2 separate regions of the Homo sapiens genome follow, and region 1 is linked to region 2. A link means that fine-mapping ties the variant in region 2 to the expression of a gene that starts in the linked region. Tissue or cell type: monocytes. Region 2 holds a variant in brackets; the other region holds the start of a gene. All regions are shown on one strand. Distances are from middle to middle.

Evidence for each region. PIP is the estimated chance that this variant, and not a neighbour inherited with it, causes the effect.
Region 1: RAVER2 starts here. The variant in region 2 is fine-mapped to the expression of RAVER2 in monocytes (BLUEPRINT, PIP 0.94).

Annotation. Positions count from the first base shown.
Region 1 is chr1:64,740,660-64,751,174 of GRCh38, reverse strand. It overlaps RAVER2 (ribonucleoprotein, PTB binding 2), which reads right to left and starts at 6,100. Exons shown (of 12, transcript NM_001366165.2): 1 at 5,754-6,100. The coding sequence starts at 6,002. RefSeq lists silencers at 6,127-6,326, 6,347-6,446.
Region 2 is chr1:64,807,380-64,817,894 of GRCh38, reverse strand. RAVER2 (ribonucleoprotein, PTB binding 2) reads right to left here. Exons shown (of 12, transcript NM_001366165.2): 9 at 10,421-10,515; 10 at 5,046-5,157; 11 at 3,055-3,191. Among named protein-coding and RNA genes, the nearest start is that of RAVER2, 68 kb to the right of the region's middle. The variant GTGTGTGTGTC/C (reference allele first, on the strand shown) is at 4,057.

The DNA.
Region 1 (10,515 bases), 67 kb after region 2:
CAAAAAAGAATTTCTAAGCATAACCCAGTCATTAACTGGGAAATGGGCTATAGATTACATGAGATTTCTTTGGAATGGCTGTTAACACAGCATTTTGATGCTAACCACAAAGTATTCCTCCTCTTCTTGAATGTGTTTTCATAGCAGAGAACTGCATTTCTCAAACACTTTTCAAGAATTTCTTCCAAAACTAGAAACTTAAGGAGACAGTGGTGTCCCAGAAATCTAGAAGTACATTTCCCTAGCAGCTTTCAGTGTTCTTGTTACATTGAGAATAGGATAACAAAACACATGAAAAAGAAGTAGAACCCATAATTCAATTCTGTTTAATTGCATTAGAAAAGAAAATTTAATAGATAATTTTTGCACAGCATACACTAAGAAAAGTAACTTTTGGAGGTAAGCAATGGCATTTTGATTTTAAAGAAAGGATAATTTCAAAAAGAGAAAACACCCCAATATTGTCAGGAAAAAAGTAGAGAATAATAGCCCTATTTTAAAAAGAGGCAATAATTACCAAATATATTGTTAGAGAAAACAAAGTACATTTTTAAATCCCACAGTTAAAGGACATAAAATATGTAAGATAATTCTTTTTTATACTGATGTATAAACAGGAATACGTAGCTTTTATAAATAAGATTATGACCAGCCTGGGCAACATAGAGAGACCGTGTCTCTACAAAAAATTAAAAAATATTAGCTGGACACAGTGGTGCATGCCTATGGTCCCAACTTCTCAGATGGCTGAGATGGAAAGATCACTTGAGCCCAGGAGTTAAGGCTGCAGTAAGCTATGATCACACCACTGCACTCCAGCCTGGGAGACAGAGAAATCTTGCTCTGTCTCTTTAAAAAAAAAAAAAAGAAAAGAAAAAGAAAAGAGAAAGAGCAGAAAAAAATTTAATTACGAAAAAAGATTAACTAGAGTTTCTTACATTTGGTTGTTTGTGATTCTAAAAAGTGCTTACTTGGTAATATTATGGTTTCAAATGGGTCTCTGTAAATAAACCATCAAGCTTCTCAAATTAACTATCATATTAGAGTACTTTGAAATGTAAGTTTATAATATCCAAAGTGACAATAGAATGTTTTGTTTCCTCTATTACTGATCCTGAATGTTGGCCCTAAGCACTTCACATTGTCTTCTAATTTCACAAGAGACTCTCTTCAAGATTTTAGGGTAAACAAGATGACAAAAACAAAACACATGCACACACATAAGACCTGTAAGAAAAAAAACCTAAGTGAACACAAATAATCTAAGAAGCAAATGCCCCTGTTTTCTCCATTTTGAAACCCCAATGACAACAATATTGAAACAGAACCAGGTTAACCGTAATACAATTTATAGAAATACAATAACACATATATTAGAAAAAATATTAAAACATTACCTCAACCAATCAAAATTCTAAATTCAGTTGCAAAAGACCAGACACACACATATACAATGGCTATGAATAGGAACCAGCATTTGCAACATTACTATTGACTATAAATTATTCATTAAAAATAATTATAAATATTATTCACTATAAAGTACTCACTATAAATACATTCCAAAACAAAGATATAACTATAAATATTCAATTCACAGTGGCATGAGGTACTTGGGGATCTAGGTAGTTTGATAAATGTGGAATAGAATCCAATGCAGGACTGGCCGGGCACGGTGGCTCACGCCTGTAATCCCAGCACTTTGGGAGGCCGAGGCGGGCAGATCACCTGAGGTCAGGCATTCGAGAGCAGCCTGGCCAACATGGTGAAACCCTGTCTCTACTAAAAACACAAAAATTAGCCGAGCGTGGTGGCACATGCCTGTAATCCCAGCTACTCGGGAGGCTGAGGCAGAAGAATCGCTTGAACCCAGGAGGTGGAGGTTGCAGTGAGCCGAGGTCACACCACTGCACTGCAGCCTGGGCGACAGAGTGAGAATCCGTCTCAAAAAACAAACAAACAAACAAAAAATCCAATGCAAGACTAATCAGAAATGAACAGAATCCAATGCGGGACTAATCAGAAATGAGACTGATGGCTGGGTGCAGTGGCTCACACTGTGGTCCCAGCACTTTGGGAGGCAAATGCAGGAGGATTGCTTGAGTCCAGGAGGTCAAGACCAGCCTAGGCAACATAGAGATACGATGTCTCTACAAAAAATTAAAAAAAAAAAAATTAGCCTGGCATGGTGGCTTATGCCTGTAGTCCCAGCTACTTTAGAGGGTGAGAGAATCGCTTCAGCCTGGAAGGTCAAGGCTGCAGTGAGCAGTGATCGTTCCACCGCACTCCAGTCCAGGTGACAGAGCAAGTCCCTGTCTCAAAACAATAAATAAAAACTAAAAAGGAATGAGACTGGAAACGTAGGCAGGGGCCAACACACAAAAAGCCTAAGAATCTTAGACTGCTGTCCTATCATTTCATGCTTTTCAAACTCATATCTGTGTACTCCATGGTAATACAGAAATACAGAGAATCAAAAGTCAAATATAGTACATTTTCCATAAGTGTCAAGTTTATGAAAAAAAATTGGGAGTTAAATGCTATTTTTGTGTTAAATCCAATGTTACTAATAGAATATAAAATTAATATAAAATTCTCAGACAGAACACAAAACTTCAAAGCAATTTCAGTCTTGCAACAGTCTAATTCAGATTCACTGTTCTTTACTGTTAAGGACAATTTGAGGAAAAGTTTGAGAGGACGTGCAGCCAAAGGCTGGTTTTTTATGAGCAGGAGAGTGACATGATCAGATTTGTGCTTCAGGAGTATCCCTCAAGGGAAGTAGCATGCAGAAGGAGCTAAAATGTAAGAAACAGGACAGTAATGAAGGTAGGTGACAAACCGAAAAGTTGTTAACAGTGAACAAGAGACGAAAAGGACTTGAACCAGAGCTGAGGCTGTGAAAACAAAGAGGGCCAGGAAGATTCCAGAAAGCTTAGGCAGACCAGACAGGGCTTGACTGAATGCACAGTAATTATTCAGTGAGAAAGCTTTTGAGAACTTAATATAAAGGTGTTCACTTTTTTTTAGAGCCGGTACTTCTATAAGGTATTTGATAAACATACCTCTAAAAGCTTCCAGTTAAAAATACTTTCAGTATGCCTTTTAATTATAGGAACTATAAAGTTGTGGGATGCTATTATAAATCTGCTATACCAAAAATAAAACAAAATTTGAGATTTATGAAAACTACATTTAATAAAGAAAACACTCATATATTTCAAATGTTAAGAAAAAATTATTGGGTTTCTACTAGTAAGTTATTGATCAGTATTTTCTAGAGACATAAATACACAGTTTGAGAACTAGAGTTATGAATGTCTTTGATCCTTAAAGTGATATTCTAAAATAAAGAAATGAGGCCAGGCACAGTGGCTCACACCTGTAATCTCAGCACTTTGGGAGGCCGAGGCGTGTGGGATCACCTGAGGTCAGGAGTTCAAGACCGGCCTGGTCAACATGGCAAAACCACATCTCTACTAAAAAATACAAAAATTAGCCAGGCATGGTGGCAGGCTTATGTAATCCCAGCTACTTGGGAGGCTGAGGCAGGGAGAATCACTTGGACCTGGGAGGCAGAGGTTGCAGTGAGCTGAGGTCGCGCCACTGCACTCCAGCCTGGATGACAGAGCGAGACTCTGTCTCAGAAAAAAAAAAAAAGAAAGAAAGAAATGAATGAATAAACACAGTCTCTTCTGGAAAAGAACAAGAACTTAGTATTTCAAAAATATCTGATTACTTAATAATTGAACAAAAGCCATATTAACCATTTCATAAGGGTAAATATGTAGTTTTAGCACAGGTGATTTTATGTAGGCCTTACTAGCAAAAAGACACAAAATAAAATAAAGTGAAACTTTCATCAGTAAGTTGACAGTAAAATATAGTCACTAAGAAAAAGCAGACATTATAATTAAGGGAAATTGTTAAAACAAAAAATACAAAAAAATTCATGCAGAACATATGAAAATATTAGTTTAAGTAGATGAAATCTCAAAAATACAAATCCCAGTGTAATTCTGAGAAAGCTTCTATCACTAATTAAAACTGCTCCTTTTATTAGACCCTTTGATATATTTTTCATGTCTATTGCGAAGGGAAATGAGAAAGATACCAACAGCAAAGCAAGAATAGACAGAACGTCTTCAATTTGGGGTCTAAATATATTTAGAATTAATGCAAGGAATTGTGATAACAAAAACAGCTGACATTCTACAAAGACATTGAGATACTTCTCTATTTCTCTCCTCCTAGACTGTCTATACAAAGAGCTGCTATTTTTTAAATTTGTTTTTTTAAAAAATGCCATCTGCTTCTTCCAAGCCTCCTCCTTCCTGAGCTCCCTTACAGTCCTCTATTTGTATGGGCAGGGGAGGCTGCTTCCAAGAAATCAGTCCATTGCAGGTGTCCTTAACAGGTAGTATCACAAAACATTACCTGACAGATGGGAAGTGGACCATGGCGGAATGGAAAGAGTTGAAAGACAGATGAGATAAACAATACTGACAGACACTGCATTTTGAAACAAAATAGCCCCCCATGCCTACGGGTTATAAGGTTATATGTTCATATTTATTGTGAATGGCTATGTAAGGTCTCATTACATAGTAATGGGGCATTGGTCTCATTATTTTATAAGTCACATGGAAGAACTGCCATGCAATTGTCAATAGCCAGCCCTCTTGCAATTTCATGCATCCGGTTACAGGAGGAACTACAAATCCGCAACTACCAGGACAGCCCACCACACTCGGAGCAGTATATAAATTCAGGTTATATGTGAAACATGTGTGAACATCCAGACAGCTAAGAAATCCTGAAGAATCAAAGAAATGATTTCAAGCTTTTGATAAAACAAAAATATATATGCATAGGAAAAGAGAAAAGAACAACATCCCAGGATAACAATGGTTATCTTCAGGTATCAGAAATATGGGTAATTTCTGTGTCCCCTTTGTGCTTCTCTGTCTTTCCTAGCTCTCCTACAATGAGCATGCAGCTTTTGAAATCAGGGGAAAAAAAAAGTTAAATAGATGCAGAGTTTCTAATCTTAAAAGCAACAGTTAATCTGGATTAAATACACAGAGTAGCTATCTTTAAACCTCATCCAAGTCACTGAGAACAAACCCTCCAGTACTGTACTTGGCGTAGCAGGAGGCGGCTGCAAGGCTCCAAGGAGCGCAGCAATAACTCTATTCTGGGGCCTTAGCAAACTGAGAAGACAGAGTTGTTTCATAGAAACTTGGGCAAGTGCTTCTGCAACAACAGCGAAACTCACTCCCAGCTCTCTCGTGCCCCTGCCCCCTATGGCACTCCCGAGCACCGGGGACTATACGTTGGAGCCCTCGCCCCTGCCAAGGTGCTCCCGAAGCTTCGGCCCCCTCTACCCCCGCTCCCCCCCGCAAAATGTGTGCTCCACAACTCACCTCCACTCTCCTTCACCTCCTACTCCTCTACGGCCGTAGGGGAAGGAAAGACCGGGCCGAACTTGGAGGCAGCAGCCCCTGATTCCCGTGACCTTGGAGAAGCCGCTTCGCCACTCAGAGCCTCAGTTTCCCAATCTGCCCCCCTCCCTGGCAGGGCGTCTGCAGGCTAGAAACCCCAAGAACTCAGTCAAACCGAGGGGCCGCTCTCACCACTCGGCGCCGACCCACTCCCCAGGACCGCTCTGAGGCGCCCCCGATCCCAGCCTGGACACGGAGCGCCGCCCCGCCGCCCCTCGGGACGCGTCGCCCCTATCACCGTCCCAGTACCTGGCAGTTGCTGTCCTGGGGCAGGTTTTTCACCAGGATTTTCCTGCGGTTGCTCAGCTCCCGCTGCATCCGCTGCAGTCGCGCGGCGACCTCCTCAGGGTGCAGCGCGGCGGGCATCGGGTCCGGGGCGCCCTCGTGCGCTTCGGCTGAGGGGCCCTGCCCGCGCAGCCCCGGCCCCGGCCCCAGCCCCGCCGCGCTGCCCAGGCCCGCGCCCCCCTCGCCGCCGCCGTCTCCCGCCGCCGCCGCCATCTTCCCGGGCGCCCAGCGGCTGCGGACTCCTCGGAGGCTCCAGGGGAAGCGGAGAGAGAAAGCGGGAGGAGGCCCGGGCGAGGGCGAGGCGGGCAGAGGCCGCAGAGTGGGCCCAACCGCGGGGAAGGGGGGCGGTGGGAGGAGGGAGTAGAGAGAGGCGGCGCCGCAGCCAGCAGCCTGCTGGCGGGGAGAGGAAACCTGAGGCGCCGAGGAGGAGCCCGAGAACCACCTCGCGGGAACCTCCCCCGCCGGCCCCCGGCCCCGGCGCACAGGCGCGCCCGCGCCCGCCTCTCGCGGGTCCGCAGGCGGGGCCGGGCGCCGCCACCCGGACACCTGTGAGGGCGCGGACGCGCAGGCGGGCTCCCCCTCTCTGCGAGGCCTTCGCGAACGCCCAGGGTCGTTCTCTGGGGGATGCGGCCCCTTCGCGGTGGCTTCGCCGGGAGACTCAGCCCCAGGCGCCTGTCCCCGGCTGGCCCCCCATGTGACGCCGCAGCTCTCCCCCGGCTCCCCTCGAAACTCCCGCGCTGGGGCGGCCCGGGGGCTGCGGGCGCGAACTCGGTCTTCCCACACCCGAGATGGGGCTGGAGGGGTGGCAGGAGGGCGCCTCCTGCAGCCCGGCTGGCTCCCGATGGTAACCCTTCTGTTGGTTCAAGAAGAGCATATTTGGCAAAGTTTGAGTTTACAATGAGATTTTCTGGGGAGTAAAAAGAGGGACATTGTGGGAGAAATGTTATGTATTTGGTAAAACCTGATCGTAATGTATTTTGCTAGCTGTGTATGAGAAAGCCTGTGCCCTTCACCTGTCCCTCTGTCCCTGTCATGCAGTTCCTAAAATGTAAAACCTGGGTAGTTGGGTCTGCAACATGGAAAGTGATGCTGAAACAAAGACTAGAATGGAAAAGGAGCTGTGGCAGAGGGGCTGGAGAATACGCTGCTTGGAACATTATTTTAATTGAAACTTGGAGGGAGAGTTACAGTGTAGAACTATACTTAGTCAAACGGATGTCATCAGATCAAACAATCCAGCAGCCTTTGGCACTAGCCCAGGTGACCATCAGCGAAGGGGACCATGCATCTTAATTGTGTAGCATGCAAGTACACTAGCAAAAAAAAAAAAAAAAAAAAAAAAAAGACTTTAACACTAATTAAAAGAAAAACAAAATGTTTTAAAGATTTTTTAAAAATACTACAAATTCAGTCCTTACCATGTGCTCCCCCCAACCACGCATTTCTAAATGCTTTACATATACATATTTATTTACTCTTCATGATCATTCAATTACGTAGGTTTTGTTTTCCTCACTTTACACGTGAGGAAATGGGATCTGTTCTGATTGATTCCAAAGCCCAGTGTTCTGAATAACATAAAATAATTCACCCGTAATCCGTCCACCCAAAAATAATGGCTGCTAATACTTGTATCATTAAAATGATATTCGGCAATACACCCTTCTATACCACCACTATTCCTGGTAACCAAAGGATAGAAACAACCCAAATGTCCATTTATTGATGAACAGATAGGCAAAGCGTGGGATATATATATGCTAAGAAATATTTTTAGCCATAAAAAGGAATTAAGGACCCCTACAAGGTGGACGAACCTCCAAAGCATTAAATGAAAGAAGCCAGAGACAAAAGGTCATATATTGTATGATTCCATGCGTATAAAATATCAGAATAGGTAGATTCATAGAGCGGAACACAGATTGGTGTTTACCAAGGGCTGGAGGAGAAGGTAATGGGTGCAAACATCCTTATGGAATGATGAAAATCTAGTTTTGGAACTAGACAGAGGGGGCAGTAGCCCAATAATATGAATGTACTAAATAGTCACTGAACTATTCACTTTTAAAATATTAATTTTATTACGTGACTATTACTGCATAAAAATGTTTTTGAATGATATTCTGTAGTTTACAGCTCTGTTTTCTGCTTTTTACAGTATGTCTGCTGAATCCCTTTCTATGCCAATGTATTTGAATACCATGGTTTTTATGGCTGCATATTATTCTGTTGAATTAGAAAATTCACTTATTTCCTAGCATTAGTATTTCCTATTATTTTTATCTATTGTAAACAGCACTGAGTTTAACCCTCTATACATATTTGAAGATCATTACTTTTCCACAGAGTGAAGAACTAGAAGCAAAATTTCTGCATCTAGAGTAAGCATATTTAAGGATTTTTTGTATGTATTTACAAACTTACCTCAGTTTTCCCTATCACAAGCATTGTATAAGAGCACTTATTTCTCTGCTTGCATCCATGATATTCTAGTATTAATGTATCATTTTGCTTTTAAATTGTATTCCTTTGATTTTAAAAGGTATACATTTTAAACTCCAATAAGGCCCTATTTTGTAGAGCTGAGAGACTTTGAAAAGTACATTCTTTGAAGTGAAGAAGCATGAATAGCCTTAGCATAGGCTGTAACCTTGAGTCATTCATTATGTTTCAGAACATGTATTTATCCAAATGAGTACCACCTCCTTGGCAAACATTTATTAAATGTCCCTTATGTGCTAGATAATATATAAAGGCAATAAGAAGACAGAAATAGTAAAATAATGCTCCTGTACAATAGGGGCTAAGTCTCACTGAGAGAAAATTATGCAATGATTATAATTAAATATAATAAATATGCAAACGGATAGTGGTCTGAATATAACTTCAGTGATTGCTTTTGCTCAAAACATTCTCCAAAGTGCTTTTTTTTTTTCTTTTGTGACGGAGTCTTGCTCTGTTGCCCAGGCTGGAGTGCAGTGGCGTGATCTTGGCTCACTGCAACCTCCGCCTCCCAGGTTCAAGCGATTCTCCTGCCTTACCCTCCAGAGTAGCTGGGACTACAGGCGTGTGCCACCAAGCCCAGCTAATTTTTTGTATTTTTAGTAGAGACGGGGTTTCACCATGTTAGCCAGGATGGTCTTGATTTCCTGACCTCATGATCCGCTCGCCTCGGCCTCCCAAAGTGCTGGGATTACAGGCGTGAGCCACCACGCCCAGCCCCAAAGTGCTTTTTTGGAATTGACTTTATAATCTACAGCAAATTATTCTGCATAGTTTATGTGGTAGCAAATACTCACCTCTTAGAGATGGGTTTAATTTTTGGAAATAATTAAATGTTATTTGAGGTTAAGTCTGGTGAATGAATCAGGTGTTGATTATGTTTTGGGAGTTATGATAATGTAATTCCAGTTTTGGCCCCAATGGGGACATGATTACAATGTTATCAAATTATTAAGCCAATTTTATTAAGTGGCTACTTTGAATTGATCCCACTCCTTGTGCAATATTGCTACGTCGTATAGGGTAGTGGCTTTCAAACTTTTTTGACCCAATCTAGTGGGAAATATATGCCACAGTGGGAAATATATTTTATATCACAATTTAGTAAACACACACACAATCGAAATGAAGATTTCACAAAACATCACGCTCCTTCATCATGTAGCACATTCTAGTATTTCCTATTCTATTCCATTCCATTTTAAAATTGCTTGAATTACACAGTCGATTTTGCATATCACTAATGAGTCCTTACTCACATTTCGAAAAACACTGCCCTAGATTTCAAATCAAGTATGTTTTACATTTGCTCAACTGTTTTCAAGGAATTAAGGGAAATGGCAGAATCTACTGGTTAAAAATAATTTTAAACTGAATTAATTGTTATTGCCACATAAAAGAACTGGATGGAAACTGCAAAGACTTTGGAATGCTACTGTAATTCCAAAGAGTTCCTCTCATGCCAGGTTTAGCCTGACTCTTTAAATAGCTGCTTCCATGGCATACTAAAGGAACACTCTAATCTGAACTTGAAGTGAAGTACAATTATCAAGCAGCAATGTATTTACCAATACCCACAGGTAATTATCATGATCTATATAATGACCATGTTATTAAAATATGAGCCCTATGCTAGCTTTAGCCTTTATTTTTTTAAATATTGGTGGTAATTTTTTAAAGTTTATTTATTTATTTATTTTTTTATTATTCTTTAAGTTTTAGGGTACATGTGCACAACATGCAGGTTGGTTACATAAGTATACATGTGCCATGTTGGTGTGCTGCACCCATTAACTCATCATTTACATTAGGTATATCTCTTAATGTTATCCCTCCCTCTCCCCCCACTCCACAACAGGCCCCAGTATGTAATGTTCCCCACCCTGTGTCTATGTGTTCTCATTGTTCAATTCCCACCTATGAGTGAGAACATGTGGTGTTTGGTTTTTTGTCCTTGCAATAGTTTGCTGAGAATGATGGTTTCTAGCTTCCTCCATGTCCCTACAAAGGACATGAACTCATCATTTTTTATGGCTGCATAGTATTCCATGGTGTATATGTGCCACATTTTCTTAATGCAGTCTATCATTGTTGGACATTTGGGTTGGTTCCAAGTCTTTGCTATTGTGAATAGTGCCGCAATAACATACATGTGCATGATTTATAATCCTTTGGGTATATACCCAGTAATGGGATAGCTGGGTCAAATGGTATTTCTAGTTCT
Region 2 (10,515 bases):
TTTAAGTTCTAGGGTACATGTGCACAACGTGCAGGTTTGTTACATAGGTATACATGTGCCATGTTGGTGTGCTGCACCCATTAGCTCGTCATTTACATTAGGTATATCTCCTAATGCTATCCCTGCCCCTCCCCCCACCCCACGACAGGCCCCAGTGTGTGACGTTCCCCTTCCTGTTTCCAAGTGTTCTCATTGTTCAATTCTCACCTCTGAGTCAGAACATGTGGTGTTTGGTTTTCTGTCCTTGTGATAGTTTGCTCAGAATGATGGTTTCCAGCTTCGTCCATGTCCCTATAAAGGACATGAGCTCATCCTTTTTTATGGCTGCATAGTATTCCATGGTGCATATGTGCTGCATTTTCTTAATCCAGTCCATCACTGATGGACGTTTGGGTTGGTTCCAAGTCTTTGCTATTGTGAATAGTGCCTCTATAAACATACGTGTGCATGTGTCTTCATAGCAGCATGATTTATAATTCTTTGGGTATATACCCAGTAATGGGATGGCTGGGTCAAATGATATTTCTAGTTCTAGATCCTTGAGGAATCGCCACACCAACTTCACAACGGTTGAACTAGTTTACAGTCCCACCAACACTGTAAAAGTGTTCCTATTTCACCACATCCTCTCCAGCACCTGTTGTTTCCTGACTTTTTAATGATTGCCATTCTAACTGGTGTGAGATGGTATCTCATTGTGGTTTTGATTTGCATTTCTCTGATGGCCAGTGATGATGAGCATTTTTTCATGTGTCTGTTGGCTGCAGAAATGTCTTCTTTTGAGAAGTGTCTGTTCATATCTTTTGCCCACTTTTTGATGGGGTTGTTTGTTTTCTGCTGGTAAATTTGTTTGAGTTCTTTGTAGATTCTGGGTATTAGCCCTTTGTCAGATGAGTAGATTGCAAAAATTTTCTCCCTTCTGTAGGTTGCCTGTTCACTCTGATGGTAGTTTCTTTTGCTGTGCAGAAGCTCTTTAGTTTAATTAGATCCCATTTGTCAATTTTGGCTTTTGTTGCCATTGGTTTTGGTGTTTTAGACATGAAGTCCTTGCCCATGCCTATGTGCTGAATGGTATTGCCTAGGTTTTCTTCTAAGGTTTTTATGGTTTTAGGTCTAACATCTAAGTCTTTAATCCATCTTGAATTGATTTTTGTATAAGGTGTAAGGAAGGGATCCAGTTTCAGCTTTCTACATATGGCTAGCCAGTTTACTAAATCTCACAGGGTTTTTAGAAATAGTAATCACTTATGTCACAAAGCATATAGCAAGTGTTAAAAAGAAAACAAACACTTTTGGTTCCTTTCCCTTAGACCTCTTCCTTCATCCCAGCAGTGGAAATAGTAAAAGGAATTCCTAATACACGACCACCTTTTTCTATAATGGTTATTTTAGTATTCCATTAGTTTAATTCCATGTACTTTAATGTTCCATTAGTAACATTTAATTAAGTTTATAAGGAAGAAAGAACACGAGAGAGAGAACAAATCCCATTTTATGAACAAGCGTGCGCTAGAAGCAGGGACTGTCAAAGGAGACACTGAACAGTGCAGGGAGGATTCATTTCCCCACCATATCTCTGGGCAAGCAAGTGTGGAGGCAGAAGACATACAGTAATGCAAAAGGCATCATTATCACAGAATTTCTCCATGTGTGAATGAGAAAGTCTTTCCATGGATATAAGTATACAATAAATCACAGTAATCTAATAAGCAAAACTGCTAAGAAAAAGGCAAATTTAAAAAGAAATAAAAGTTCAAAAAATTTTTAAAGCTTAAATATGTATTTAATGAATTTTTAAAAAATTTATTGTGCTTCTCCTGTTTATAAAAAGTTTGTTTCTTGAAAAGAAACAAATTGGAATTGTACAGGACTATATCTTGTAAATTTTACAATTAATGTCTTTATCTAAGTCATTACTTCAAATGTTATCTAATAAAGGACTGAAGATGACTCTTATGAATCAATATAAGAGAATGCCTTCAGACTGCAGCAATTTGTGATCACTGTTCTCTAAATATAGATATACTGTCACCTAATTACATCATCTACCCAACCCATATTTTTCCGTCTTGTCCCAGGTATATAAGAGATGGCAAATATTTCACTAATATCCAGCTGCACCATTTTTACAGAACTTGGGCTGTTTCTAGTACTCTTATAATCAGGCGTCAATTGTTCTAAGTGGTTTTCTTTTCTAAGTTTATTAGGGATGGGTCAGGCAAACACAAAGCTGCTCCAGGGAAATCAAAGTGGAGACAAGACTCCAACGAACAGGATAGATCTGAGAAGAAGCTGGCTGTTCTAGGAAAGTAAGAGTCAGAACTGATAATTATAAGACTCTTGTGGACTCTTATGATTCCATAATCACACAGGGCTAACATGATATATATTCAGCTTACACCACTAAGAGTAAGCTGAAGAAGGGCCAAAGCAAAACTGAAATATTTAAGTAATGACACAGGACATCTTATGAACATAATATTTTTATGTTATTGATTGGCTGGTTTAGAAGTTAGCACAGTAGTGTCTGTAAATATGATCATCTTTCTCCATCTACAATCAGTGGAGAAGAACAGAGGCATTCCCTTGGGTTTCTTAGGTCTACACTAGTGCAAACCAGAGGTTAGCAGCATTTTTCTATAAAGAACCAGATAGTAAATATTTAATCTTGCAGGCCACATAGTCTCTACTGTCATCACTCAACTCTTTTATTATAGCATGACAGCACCATAGACAATATGTTAATGAATGGACATGGCTGTATTACAATACAAATTTATTTACAAAACCAGGTGGTGGGCTAGATTTGTTCTATGGGCTGTAGTTTGCCAACCACTAGGTAAACAGTGAGAGGTAAATATCTAGTGCAAAATGATACTAAATAATGTCTTGAACACATTCCCAAATTTCAAATGATGAGTAAGAAATACATAGATCAGTGCAATTTGATTTGCCTACGTTAATAATATAGAAATCACAATTTCATATTCAGTGAACTCAATATATAGTTGAACCAATTTTTCTGAGTATCATCAGAACCTGGGAATTATTTACCTGTGCATAATCACCAAAAGGTGGAGAATAAGCAATGCACTTTTCCAATGCGTGTTGTGATTCACTTCCCTGAGAGATTGCATCCAGAATGCTGCTTGCAATTCCAGTCTTATGAAGAGTGGTTTTACTTGCAGGGGCTAAAGGCAGAATCAACAAGTTTATTTTATTTAGGTTATTTTATTATAAATTTATTTTATTTAGGTTATTTTAAATAAATTATTTTATTATAAGTTATATTATAAACAAATTATATTTTATTATAAATTGTAACTCAGCACATTATCAAATAGAACAAAATTTTAGTTTGCCAATATATAACTAAATAATTTTCCCCTGAGAAGTATATAATACTGTCTTATTCATTTGGAACAACTTAAAATGGACACCTGTCTCATGGGTAAATAATTTTGGTGGAAAGGTTCAAAAACATATATGTCTGGCTGAGCACGGTTGCTCATGCCTGTAATTCCAGCACTTTGAGAGGCCAAGGTGGGAGGATCACTTGAGCCCAGGAGTTCGAGATTGGCTTAGGTGACATGGTGAAACCCCATCTCTATAAAAATACTAAAAATATAAAAATTTGCCAGGAATGGTGGTGCATGACTGTAATCCCAGCTACTTGGGAGGCTGAGACATAAGAATTGCTTGAACCCAGGAAGTGGAGGTTGCAGTGAGCCGAGATGATGCCACTGCACTCCAGACTGGGTGACAGAGCAAGACTCTGTCTCACAAACACACACACACACAAAATTAGCTGGGCATGGTGGCACATGCCTGTAGTCCCACCTACTCGGGAGGCTGAGTTAGGAGGATCACTTGAGCCCAGGAGGTGTAGGCTGCAGTAGCCAAGATCACACCACAGCACTCCAGCCTGGGTGACAGAGGGAGACCTTGTCTCAAAAAAGCAAAACCCTAAAACTTAAAGTATAATAAAAAAATAAATAAATAAATAACCCAAAACAAAACGTGTGTGTGTGTGTGTGTGTGTGTGTGTGTGTGTGT[GTGTGTGTGTC/C]TAGTCTCTAAAACAAGGCATATAAAATGTAAACTAACCATTCTTATAAATGTAATAATTGTCACCATCAATTTTTAGACCAGATCAATATATAACAGGTATACTAGAAGTGCCTTTACATTTTTTTCCAGCTCAAAAAAAATTACAAATTAATGTTTGGATTCAAGGATATTTCATAAAATACAGAGGATGTATATTAAAAATGAAATTCATCTTTCATCTCTTTTCATTTAATCCTATTCTTCTTCCCAGAGGTAATAGTTTAGAATTTACTTTTTTGGATTTACTTCATGCATTTGCACTCTCAAGTATATACATGTAAGGATATATAACTTTAAATAAACATAAATGGAATCATTTTATGCATATATTTGCCAAAATATGCTTTAGAGTTCATCTCATATCAGTATATGTAGATATCCCTCAATTATTAAAAAAAAAGTTGCACAGTATTCAATTTTATGATGAACTATTTAAGCATTCCCCTATTGACAAATATTAAGTATTTTCCAGTTTTCCCACTATTTACAACCAATGTTGCAGTGAACATCCTTGTGCCTGGAGCACATCACATTTGTGATTTTCTCTTAAAACGATATTTGAATGAATAGTTGATTTATAGTAATTGAAGGCTTGAGGGTTTCCTCCAAAATGTAAATGAGAATTCCACTTCCACCAATTATTGGTAGCTCATACATTCTGGGAGTATTCAAATACTCAAGATATATAAGATTACTTATAGGTTTAAACTTCTGGTTAAGAAAAATGACTCTCTATGAGTTGTAATGTTTTCCTTAAATAAAATAGCACGCATTTTGAGTGTCTTAGTTTTAATTATTCTTTCAATTTAAAGAATAATTTAGGCCTTAATTTGGTCAATAGGTATTATTTGCTTCCATGAAGTCAAAAATTAAAGTAAAACTTATTATGAAAAGTATTCAGTAAAACTCCACAACAAGAATACTGAGCCCCTACTTACATGATAAGCACACACTGGGCAACACACTTGCCAAATTCAAGTATGGATTTTTACTGAGCCGAATTTCTTTTGGTGGTTCTCCCAAGAGTGAAGTTTGATTCTTAGAGGCAGCCTATTTAACAAAAACAAAGGAGGGAGTACTTAATGAGAGGTACACGAAAATAAAAATAAAGAATAGAGAAATACTTATTTTTCAATACATCTAGTGTACTTATGAAATATTTATGGATGTTCACTAAAATTATCACATTTCACCTGTTATTAGTTGTTCAATTAGGTTTTTAAAAAACTATTGTAGAGCCATAGAACTTTAGAACTAAAAGAGAATGAAAGGACATCTTATACAACCTTCTCATTTGAACCAGGAAAGAATTCATCTTCACAAGAAAAACCAAATTCCATATCTCTTTTCCAGAAACACTGTTATCTATCTGTCTGTCTGTCTGTCTATCTATCTATCTACCTATTTTTTTTTTTTTTTTTTTTTGGAGATGGAATCTCACTCTATTGCCCAGGCTGGAGTGCAATGGTGCAATCTCAGCTCACTGAAACCTCCGCCTCCCAGGTTCAAGCGATTCTCCTGCTTCCGCCTCCTGAGTAGCTGGGATTACAGGCCCGCACCTCCATGCCTGGCTAATTTTTTTATATTTTTAGTAGAGATGGGGCTTCACCATGTTGGCCAGGCTGATCTTGAACTCCTGACCTTCGTGATGCCCCCGCCTTGGCCAAAGTGTTGGCTCAACACCAAAGTGTTGAGATTACAGGCGTGACCCACCGCGCCTGGCCTGTTATCAATATTTTTACTGAGATTTTTATATTTTATGACCAAATAACAAAAGCAAAGCTTATTTACCTCTGGTACTAAAAATAATGTCAAACAAAATAAATGAGTTTAATAAACTCCAACTCCACATTTAGATGATGCTAGAAATACACATTTCTTGAAAATGTATATCAGTATATTTTTATGTATTAGTTAGGTGTAAGGATTCTAGCACAGTTGACCCTTGAAACAACATGGGGGTTAGGGGTGCCAACCCCCTACACAGTGGAAAATCTATGTATAACCCTTGTCTACCCAAAAACTTAACTACTAATAGCCTACTGTTAACTAGAAGCCTTACCAACAGCCAACAATTAACACATATGTTGTATGTTACATGTATTATATACTGTATTTTTACAATAAAGTGGAGAAAAGAAAATATTAAGAAAACCATAAGGAAAACACATTTACAGTACTGTAGTATTTATCAATACCATAAATTACATCATTTGTTTACAATATGGATCTGTCTGAAATGGTGGACAACAGCAGCTACAAACCTCAATCTGTGGTACACATCAAGCAATTCGAATTTTTCTTACAATGTCATGACATTGTTTCTTGAGAGCACTTCTAGTATCGCTAGTGGCATTTTTATGGATTGTAGGATGTTATTCAAGGTTTATGGTATTGCACTAAACATGATGAAAAATATGCAAGCATGACGAGACATCACTTTTTACTGCAATAAGCAATTTACTGGAGAGATGAATGGCTCACATGGAGATGATTAGCAACATACAGCATTTTAAGTGGATCCTCTCAACACTTGAGCTCACCGCAATAGCAACAGGAAGTAGCTACAAAATTATCACAGTAGTACGGTACACACTACAGTTAATTTTATGCAGTTATGATTTAATACTGCATCTTTATTTTGGTTTACGTTTCTTTTGACTGTGAATGGTGCCATGTACGGTCTGTAAGTATGTATGTTAGTTTTGCTAAATTTTAACTTTTTAATAATAGGTTTGTATACATGTTATGGTAGTAAATTACAAACTAGACTAATATCTACATATATTTTATGCATTCATGACATATATAACTTTTTCTTAATTTTTTCAATATTTCTAGGCTATGGGGTTCATTTGTGAGTTTTTTCAAACTTTTTCAAATTTCCAAAAAATTTCCCACTATATTTCTTGGAAAATATCCAAGTATAAGTGGACCTGTGCAGTTAAAACCCGTGTTGTTCTAGGGTCAACTGTATGTAGAAAACTCCTAAAAACTGAGCAATGACAACAAAAATGAACCTGATTTAAAATGGGCAGAAACTTTAATAGACATTTCTCCAAAGAAAATATACAGATGACCAGTAAGCACACACAAAAATGCTCAACATCACTAATCATTAGGGAAATGCAAATCAAAACCACAATGAGACACCACTTCACACCCATTGGGATGGCTATCACTACGAACTGAATGTTTAAGTCTCCCCAGAATTCATATGTTGAAATGCTAAGCCTCAATATGATGGTCTTAGAAGGTGGGGCCTTTGGGAGGTAATGAGGTCATTAAAGTAGAGCCCTCAAGAGTGGGATTAGTGCTCTTATAAGAAGAGACATGAAAGGTCTTGCTCCAGCCTTTTACCATGTGAAAATGGAATGGAAAGATGGTCATCTGTAAAGCAGGAACAGTATCCTCATCACACACTGGATTTGCTGGCACCTTGCACCTTCTCTTAGAATTCCCAGCCTCTCAAACTGTGAGAAATAAATGTTTGTTGTTTAAACCACCCAGTCTATGGTATTTTTGTTACAGACAGCTAAAACAGAAAACAAGCGTTGGCAAGGATGTTGGAAAATTAGAATCCCTGTGCACTGCTAGCAGGAATGTAAAATGGTGCAGCTGCTGTGGAAAAAAGGATGACAGTTCCAACAAAAATTAAACATGCATTATGGTATGATCCAGCAATTCCATTTCTGGGTACATACCCCAAAGAATTGAAAGCAGGGACTCAGATACCAATGTTCACAGCAGCATTATTTACAATAAACAAAAGGTAGAAACAACCCACATGTCCATGGATGGCTGAATTAAAACATGGTATATACGTACAATGGAATATTATTCGGCCTTAGAAAAGAAGGAAATTTGGATACATGCTACAACATGGATGAATCTAGAAAACATTATGCTAAGTGAACTAAGCTACACACAGAAGGACAAATATTGTGTCACCTAGGTACCTAGAATAGTCAAATTCATAAAGACAAAAGTAGAAACGGTGGTTACCTGGGCTAGTGGGAGAAGAAAATGGAGAGTTATTATTTAACAGGTACAGGTTTCAGTATGAGATGATGAAAAAGTTTTGGAGATGGAGAGTAATGATGCTGCACAACAATGTGAATGTACTTAATGCCACATCACTTAAAATGGTTAAAATGGTAAATTGTATGTTATGTATATTTTACCACAATAAACAGAAACTGGTTATCATCCCTGTCTCCCTGAATAAAATTCTCAAAGGTTGGAGTTGGGGTCCAAATCTCTTTTATTTATTTATTTATTTATTTATTTATTTATTTTTGCACTAGAGGTGATTCTGGAAACAAAAAGGTAGACTCAAGACTTACTGGCCAACACAATATTAAAGATGCAGGTCTAAACATCTGAAGCAAAGTTAAACCAATCATTTCAGCCAAGTCTAAAATCTCACAATTAGAAAACACTGAGGTTACCTGGTACAACCCCTACTGACAGAAAGAGGGATCATTTCTATTAATACAACATCCTTTACAGATGCTTGCCTGGGCTCTGCTTAATTGCTTTTGGTGATATGACATTCACATCTTTGTGAAATAAACTTTCTCTTTGCTTAAAAGCTTGAATTGTTCTTCCTTATATTAAACCTAAATCTGCTTTATTGTATGTTGTACTTAATAGCCAGTTCTGCCCACTGGAGGTACACACAATACTGTATGACTACTCTTTAAATAGCTTTAACAATGTATATGTTTGGTTGTCCCTTTCCAGGTTCCATATATCCATTTCTCCTGAATTCTTCTTCACAGGACTTATTTTCCAGAACCTGCCCCCATTTTGGCTGTCCTCTTGTAGATAGACTCATTTGCCCATTATGTGAATCACCTAAAATCCACAGTTCTTCTAAAGACTCTGAGGCTTTCAGTGAATTAAAGATTGCAAAGAGACATGAAGTATTCATATACAAGTTTTATTTGTGTAATTTCCCTCAATAACCCAAGCAATGAACACTGCAGATAAATTTTTAAAATTCATTCTATAAAGAATTGACGGCCAGGTGCAGTGGCTCACACCTGTAATACCAGCACATTGGGAAGCCGAGGCGGGAAGATCACCTGAGCTCAGGAGTTCGAGACCAGTCTGGCCAACATGGTGAAACCCCATCTCTACTAAAAATACAAAAATCAGCCAGGTATGGCGGTGTGTGCATGTAATCCCAGCTACTTGGAAGGCTGAGGCAGGGGAGCCACTTGAACCCAGGAGGCAGAGGTTGCAGTGAGCCGAGGTTGTGTCGCTGCATTCCAGCCTGGGCAACAGAGCAAGACTTGGTCTCAAAAAAAAAAAAAAAAAAAAAAAGGACTGCATTAGCTTTCTCAATATACAATTGCAGGGCATTCTAGTCATACCTCTTGCTATGGCTAGGTAACACTAAAACCTCTTACAAATTCAGTATTATTATTTTGACACTTGAATACAAGAAACTACATAGATTTTTTTTCCTTACAAACTGCTTAAGCCTAAGTTTTATACCACTTACAAACCACAGTGTATTTTAGGGTACAAATATAATAAAAATTAGATGTACTTTAGTCTACCTACTTATTACAACATTTATAAATATCAGTGGTATTTTAGCCAATAAAATGATTCGGTAAAATCTTCCAGAATTAAAAGAGAGACCAGATTAGTTTGAACAGACCAGAGTTTAATAGCTGGTTTTGATATTTTCCGGATAAAATTGGTTCTGCCTTTAAATATTAAAATACTTTAATTAGCTACCAAATATATATTTAAGATAGAAAAAAGTATATTTGAAAGAACAGCATTACTATGTACTTAGAAAGCCTTACAAATAACATTACTACGTAAGCGAATAAGCATTGATACTCCTAAGCTTTTTCAAACTACAAAATTCTGAACTTAAACTAGTTTATATCTTATATTTAAAATAGCAAGTATTTTTGAAAACCATGTATATCACAAACTTTTTGGAAATTCCTTATTCTCTTATAAGGAATAAAGAATCCACATTTAAATTATTTATAAGAGACGTAACTCATTTTACACAAATTAAAATTACTTTACTTACAAACTGGCAAATAATTAAGATAGTCCCAAATGCCAGCTAGCATAACTTATCAAAAAATGGATTTTTTGTTTGCTTTATTTATAACAGATTTTTTAAAAGAATGCAATGTTTTCTTCAATTTTGAAAAGTAAATGTAAACTATGAAAAAGTCATCATTTCATTGACACGACAATTTAAGACATAATTTAAAAGGAATATATATACATATACATGTATATATACATCTGTGTGCACCCACAGTTTTCTTACCCCTGAACTTATCTCTGTGCCTTTTGGCTGGCTTTGCTGCTGCTTATGGTGTCCCACCAGCAAGCTTCCAGCAGCAAGGTTTGGAAAGCTCTGAA